Linked DNA regions of Homo sapiens. The protein of the gene in region 1 purifies or fractionates together with the protein of each later gene. This does not show direct contact. Each region holds a gene or a part of one and is shown on either strand. Other genes may lie near its edges.

Region 1 (3,500 bases):
GTTTCTTTACTTTTACTATTTGTCTTCTGAATGTAACTTTCTTCTTTGATCTATCCTCACATGCTCTCAGTCTACTATAGACTTCATCCGTGTTTAGTAAAGTGTCCCTGGAGTAGTGATTGCAGACGTGGGAAGATGGACCAGAAAGGGGAACACATTTCTTCAGATAAAAATATGGTGCCATAAGAATCTTCAAAAGGAAGCTTGTAAAAGATCTATGGTGTTGCTTTGGAAATGCCAGTGCATAGATGTAGGAATTAAGATGATGGTACTGTGAGATCAGACAGATTGGAGAGGCAGCTGGGGAAGTGTGGGTAGATGGCAGAGGAAATCCCCTATACTCCCCAGAAAGGGGAAGGCCAGTGAGAGGAAGCCTGGAGTTGACACATCAGGCAGGGCTAAGAAAGGGGTACGTGCCAGAAATTTGCAGGGATCGCAAGAAAAGGCAAGAGTAGGAAAAGAAAGGACAGGAAGGGAAAATAGAGAAGACCCTGCAAGAGAAAGGCACTGGCTTGAAAGTCGCAAGTTGCTCAGTGATCAAGACTAGTAACTGTGTGGTGGGAACTTTACTGTGAGAAAAACAACAGGTTTAAATGGCCCCTGATTTACCATGAATTTGAAGGAAATGCCTCAAAGATTTAAAATGTTTAAATTTATTGAAAGCACATTTGAATGAACTTTTAGCTCTCTCAAAGACAGGTAATCAGACAAATGATGTTCAAGAAAGCTATTCTTTAATAGGTATTGTAAAACTAACACCTTTTTTGGCTTTAGGGTAGTTTATTTCTCATCACTGATGTTTATGAAGAGGTGGGGGAGGTGTATAATAAGATGTCTTGCATAATCCATTTCTCAGATTTATGGCTTAATCAGAGTCTCTTTTTCTAAATACATTATGTCTACATTTTTCTTTTTTTTTTTCTTTTTTTTTTTTTTTAGCTGTTAATATCGCTTGCATATATTTCTTTTTTTTTTATTTTATTTTATTTTATTTCTATTTTTTTTTTTTTTATTGATCATTCTTGGGTGTTTCTCGCAGAGGGGGATTTGGCAGGGTCATAGGACAATAGTGGAGGGAAGGTCAGCAGATAAACAAGTGAACAAAGGTCTCTGGTTTTCCTAGGCAGAGGACCCTGCGGCCTTCGGCCTTCCGCAGTGTTTGTGTCCCTGGGTACTTAAGATTAGGGAGTGGTGATGACTCTTAACGAGCATGCTGCCTTCAAGCATCTGTTTAACAAAGCACATCTTGCACCGCCCTTAATCCATTTAACCCTGAGTGGACACAGCACATGTTTCAGAGAGCACAGGGTTGGGGATAAGGTCACAGATCAACAGGATCCCAAGGCAGAAGAATTTTTCTGAGTACAGAACAAAATGAAAAGTCTCCCATGTCTACTTCTATCCACACAGACCCGGCAACCATCCGATTTCTCAATTTTTTCCCCACCCTTCCCGCCTTTCTATTCCACAAAACCGCCATTGTCATCATGGCCCATCCCCAATGAGCCGCTGGGCACACCTCCCAGACGGGGTCGTGGCCGGGCAGAGGGGCTCCTCACTTCCCAGTGGGGGCGGCCGGGCAGAAGCGCCCCTCACCTCCCGGATGGGGCGGCTGGCCGGGCGGGGGGCTGACCCCCCCACCACCCTCCCGGACGGGGCGGCTGGCCAGGCAGAGGGGCTCCTCACTTCCCAGTAGGGGCGGCCGGGCAGAGGCGCCCCTCACCTCCCGGACGGGGCGGCCGGCCGGAAGGGGGGCTGACCCCCCCACCTCCCTCCCGGACGGGGCGGCTGGCCGGGCAGAGGGGCTCCTCACTTCCCAGTAGGGGCGGCCGGGCAGAGGCGCCCCTCACCTCCCGGACGGGGCGGCTGGCCAGGCGGGGGGCTGATCCCCCCACCTCCCTCCCGGACGGGGCGGCTGGCCGGGCGGGGGGCTGACCCCCCCCACCTCCCTCCCGGACGGGGCGGCTGGCCGGGCGGGGGGCTGACCCCCCCCTCCCCCCTCCCGGACGGGGCGGCTGGCCGGGCGGGGGGCTGACCCCCCCACCTCCCTCCCGGGCGGGGCGGCTGGCCGGGCAGAGGGGCTCCTCACTTCCCAGTAGGGGCGGCCGGGCAGAGGCGCCCCTCACCTCCCGGACGGGGCGGCTGGCCAGGCGGGGGGCTGATCCCCCCACCTCCCTCCCGGACTGGGCGGCTGGCCGGGCGGGGGGCTGACCCCCCCACCTCCCTCCTGGACGGGGCGACTGGCCGGGCAGAGGGGCTCCTCACTTCCCAGTAGGGGCGGCCGGGCAGAGGCGCCCCTCACCTCCCGGACGGGGCGGCCAGCCGGGCGGGGGGCTGACCCCCCCACCTCCCTCCCGGACGGGGTGGCTGCCGGGCGGAGACGCTCCTCACTTCCCAGACGGGGTGGTTGCCGGACGGAGGGGCTCCTCACTTCTCAGACGGGGCGGTTGCCAGGCAGAGGGTTTCCTCACTTTTCAGACGGAGCGGCCGGGCAGAGACGCTCCTCACCTCCCAGACAGGGTTGCGGCCCAGCAGAGGCGCTCCTCACATCCCAGACAGGGCGGTGGGGCAGAGGTGCTCCCCACATCTCAGACGATGGGCGGCCGGGCAGAGACGCTCCTCACTTCCTAGATGGGATGGCGGCGGGGAAGAGGCGCTCCTCGCTTCCTAGATGGGATGGCGGCCGGGCAGAGACGCTCCTCACTTTCCAGACTGGGCAGCCAGGCAGAGGGGCTCCTCATATCCCAGACGATGGGTGGCCAAGCAGAGACGCTCCTCACTTCCCAGACGGGGTGGCGGCCGGGCAGAGGCTGCAATCTCGGCTCTTTGGGAGGCCAAGGCAGGCGGCTGGGAGGTGGTTGTAGCGAGCCGAGATCACGCCGCTGCACTCCAGCCTGGGCACCATTGAGCACTGAGTGAACGAGACTCCATCTGCAATCCCGGCACCTCGGGAGGCCGAGGCTGGCGGATCACTCGCGGTTAGGAGCTGGAGACCAGCCCGGCCAACACATCGAAACCCCGTCTCCACCAAAAAAAAACGAAAACCAGTCAGGCGTGGCGGCACGCGCCTGCAATCGCAGGCACTCGGCAGGCTGAGGCAGGAGAATCAGGCAGGGAGGTTGCAGTGAGCTGAGATGGCAGCAGTACCGTCCAGCTTTGGCTCGGCATCAGAGGGAGACCGTGGAGGGAGAGAGAGGGAGAGGGAGAGGGAGAGGGAGAGGGAGAGGGAGAGGGAGAGGGAGAGCTATGTCTACATTTTTCTATGCCATTAAAATAAAGGCAAGCATAATGAGATATTCTAGCTTTATAAGTCTTCTTTCCTCTATTTTTTTCCAGCATGTGGAAATATGGGTAAAAAGCAGTAGTTTTAATATGTAAATGATATTATTATAGTTACCTTTTTTTACATTGTTTAAACAGCTTTTTTGAGGTGTAATATGTAATATGTAAAATTCTTGCATATAAAACAAAATTCAATGACTTTTAGTAGATTTCAGAGT
Region 2 (3,500 bases), on another chromosome or scaffold:
GTAGTGGCCCCGAATGTCAGGCTGCGCTGATATTTATTGGATACAAGACAAAGAGGCAGGGTAAAGAGTGTGAGCCATCTCCAATGATAGGTAAGGTCACGTGGTTCACGTGTCCGCTTGACAGGGGGCCCTTCCCTGCCTGGCAGCCTAGGCAGAGAGAGAGAGAGAGGAGAGAGAGAAACAGCTTACGCCGTTATTTCTGCGTATCAGAGACTTTTAGTACTTTCACTAATTGACTACTGCTATCTAGAAGGCAGAGCCAGGTGTACAGGATGGAACATGAAGGCGGACAAGGAGCGTGACCACTGAAGCACAGCATCACAGGGAGACGGTTAGGCCTCTGGATAACTGCGGGCAGGTCTGACTGATGTCAGGCCCTCCACAAGAGGTGGAGGAGCAGAGTTTTCTCTAAACTCCCCCGGGGAAAGGGAGACTCCCTTTCCCTGTCTGCTAAGTAGCGGGTGTTGTTCCTTCACATTTTTCGCTACCGCTAGACCCTGGTCCGCCTGGCAACGGGCGTCTTCCCAGATGCTGGCGTCACCGCTAGACCAAGGAGCCCTCTGGTGGCCCTGTCCAGGCATAACAGAAGGCTCGCACTCTTGTCTTCTGGTCACACCTCACTATGTCCCCTCAGCTCCTATCTCTGTATGGCCTGGTTTTTCCTAGATTATGATTGTAGAGCGAGGATTGTTATAATATTGGAATAAAGAGTAATTGCTACAAGCTAATGACTAATATTCAAATATAATCATATCTATGATCTATATCTAATATAACTATTCTTGCATATTTTGTTATACTGGAACAGCTCGTGCCCTTGGTCTCTTGCCTTGGCACCTGGGTGGCTTGCTGCCCACAGTTGGGTGTCGTGGCATGCAATTGTAGTCCCAGCTACTTGGGAGGCTGAGGCAGGAGGATCACTTGAGCCAGGAGGTCAAGGCTGCAGTGAGCCACAGTTGCAGCAGTGCACTCGAGCCTGGGCAACAGAGCAAGGCCTTGTCTCAAAAAAAGTAATAAAAAAAATAAAAATAACAGAACCTGCTACCATCAGACTGGGGGCCAATATTTAATGAGAGGAGGGAATGTTTTCTGCCAAAAAGTAGGAAGGACAGATGTCCAGAGAGAGGGCCGCGCTGTCGCCGGGCGTGACGTCCCTGTGTCTGGCGGAGCCCAGGACGGTCTGGGGGCCTGACAGTGCCTCTTGCTGCAGGTGGTGCAGCGGCTGACGCGGATGGTGGGGAAGAACGTGAAGCTGTACGACATGGTGCTGCAGTTTCTGCGCACGCTCTTCCTGCGCACGCGGAATGTGCACTACTGCACGCTGCGGGCTGAGCTGCTCATGTCCCTGCACGACCTGGACGTGGGTGAAATCTGCACCGTGGACCCGTGCCACAAGGTAGCACTGCCCTCCCTCCTTCCCCCCTACCCTCCTGAAGGTAGTGCTGCCCTCCCTCCCTCCTTCCCTCCCACTCCCCGGCCCTCCCTCCTTCCCCCACTGCCCTCCTGAAGGTAGCGCTGCCCTCCCTCCCTCCCTCCTTCTCCCTTCTCCCCCGCTCCCCGGCCCTCCCTCCTCCCCCTCCGCCCTCCTGAAGGTAGCGCTGCCCTCCCTCCCTCCTTCCCCCCAACTCCCCGGCCCTCTCTCCTTCCCCCTCTGCCCCTCCTGAAGGTAGCATTGCCCTCCCTCCTTCCCCCTGGCCCTCCTGGCTCCTCTCCTCTCCGTGGGTTTGGCTTGGCCCGGGACCACCTGGGCGCCCTTCTCTCCCATGCCTGTTTCCTGGGCTCTGGTCTTTCTGTCCTGTGTGCTGGCCCTTTGGCTTCTCTCCAGACCCTGATGGGGGAAGGAGGCTAGTCCCCTGCATCTGAGCCAGAGACCTGGCCGTTCCCGGGGACTCCCTTGCCCCGTCCAGCCCTTTCTGTGTTCCCGAGGGCTGTATGACCTACGGGCTGGACCTTGACCATTGCCCCAGCTTCCTCCCATCTTTCCACCTGGCCTGTGGCCCTCCCCTTCCCCAGAACCCTGGGTGCTGCTTGTTGGCCAGGTACCAAGTGCTCTAGGAACGGGGTTTCCCTTCATACGGACCCTCCAGCCCTGAGACCATCTTTCCGGGACTTGGGAGTCACCCTCCGAGGCTTCCATTGCTTGGAGTGCTGCAGTGGCCACCCCCACACTCAGGGTGCCATGAAGGAGTCCGTTTTTAGAAAGAAACATCATCACTTTCTCCACCACTGTCCTGACCCTGCTGCTTTGGCCGGGAGGTGTGGGGAACACTGCACCGTCAGGATGACTGGTGCCTGCTGCCGCCCCCCGCAGCAGCTATGATTGAACAAGAGGCCAGGGCCTGGAGCTGTGTTTGGGGCCTGGGTCTCTGGTCATCCTGGGAGGTTTGGGCTGGTCCCGACCGTGCTTCCTCCTTGCAGTTCACCTGGTGCCTGGACGCCTGCATCCGAGAGCGGTTCGTGGACAGCAAGAGGGCGCGGGAGCTGCAGGGGTTTCTCGATGGCGTCAAGAAGGGCCAGGAGCAGGTGCTGGGGTGAGGGTCGGCTCCACGAGGCCTCTGCCCCTCAGGGCCCTGCGTGCATCCGGTCTGCGCTTGCTGTGTTTTGCCGTGGGTAGCAGGCGTTTATTCCCGGATATTGCTTTTTCTTTTGTTTTTTTCGAGACAGAGTCTCGTTCTGTAGCCCAGGATGGAGTGCAGTGGTGCAATCTCTGCTCACTGCAACCTCCGCCTCCTAGGCTTAAGCCATTCTCCTGCCTCAGCCTCCCAAGTAGCTGGGATTACAGGCACGCGCCACTGCGCTCAGGTAATTTTTGTATTTTTTAGTAGAGACAGGGTTTCACCATGTTGGCCAGGCTTGTCTTGAACTCCTGACCTCAGGTGATCCACCCGCCTCAGCCTTCCAAAGTGCTGGGATTACAGGCATGCGCCACCGTGCCTGGCCTCCTGGATGTTTCAATAGAGCTATGCCGGGCACTGCTGGCCCACAGCTTAGGGACATGGTTGTCGGGATGTGTGTGGGTAGCAAAGTCTCCCTCCTCAACTCTGCATTCTGGAGCCAGGCCCAGGGGCTGGGGTCTGGTGTCTGCAGTGGCGTGGGGTCAGCCTCTGAGCTGAGGGGCATCCATTGGCATTTGCTTTCCAGCATCCTCTGGCTGGTGTATAGACACAGTGCTGCCTGGCCCTGCCTTTGCCACTTTTTTTCTTCCTTTTTTTTTTTTTTTTTTTTTTTCTGAGACAGGGTCTCTGTCACCCAGGCTTTAGTGCAGTGGTACAGTCTCCCTCAACCTCCTGGGCATTGATCCTGCTGTCTCCGCCTCCCAAAGTGCTGGGATTACAGGCACACACCAGTGCGCCTGGCCGATTTTTGTTATCTTTAGTAGAGATGGGATTTCACCACCTCGCCCGGGCTAGTCTCAAACAAACAATCCACCGGCCTCAGCATCCCAAAGTGCTGGGATGACAGGCGTGAGCCACCACACCCAGCCTTTTTTTTGTTTGTTT

What was found. The genes of interacting proteins can lie anywhere in the genome.
Region 2: the proteins of INTS9 (region 1) and NELFB purify together in Homo sapiens (affinity purification with mass spectrometry; one large-scale study listed by BioGRID and IntAct). This does not show direct contact.

What each region holds. Positions count from the first base shown.
Region 1 is NC_000008.11:28,879,970-28,883,469, reverse strand, and holds part of INTS9 (integrator complex subunit 9), read left to right. Parts: intron 1-3,500. UniProt on the Homo sapiens protein: Component of the integrator complex, a multiprotein complex that terminates RNA polymerase II (Pol II) transcription in the promoter-proximal region of genes.
Region 2 is NC_000009.12:137,261,827-137,265,326, forward strand, and holds part of NELFB (negative elongation factor B), read left to right. Parts: intron 1-1,210; coding exon 1,211-1,396; intron 1,397-2,418; coding exon 2,419-2,531; intron 2,532-3,500. UniProt on the Homo sapiens protein: Essential component of the NELF complex, a complex that negatively regulates the elongation of transcription by RNA polymerase II.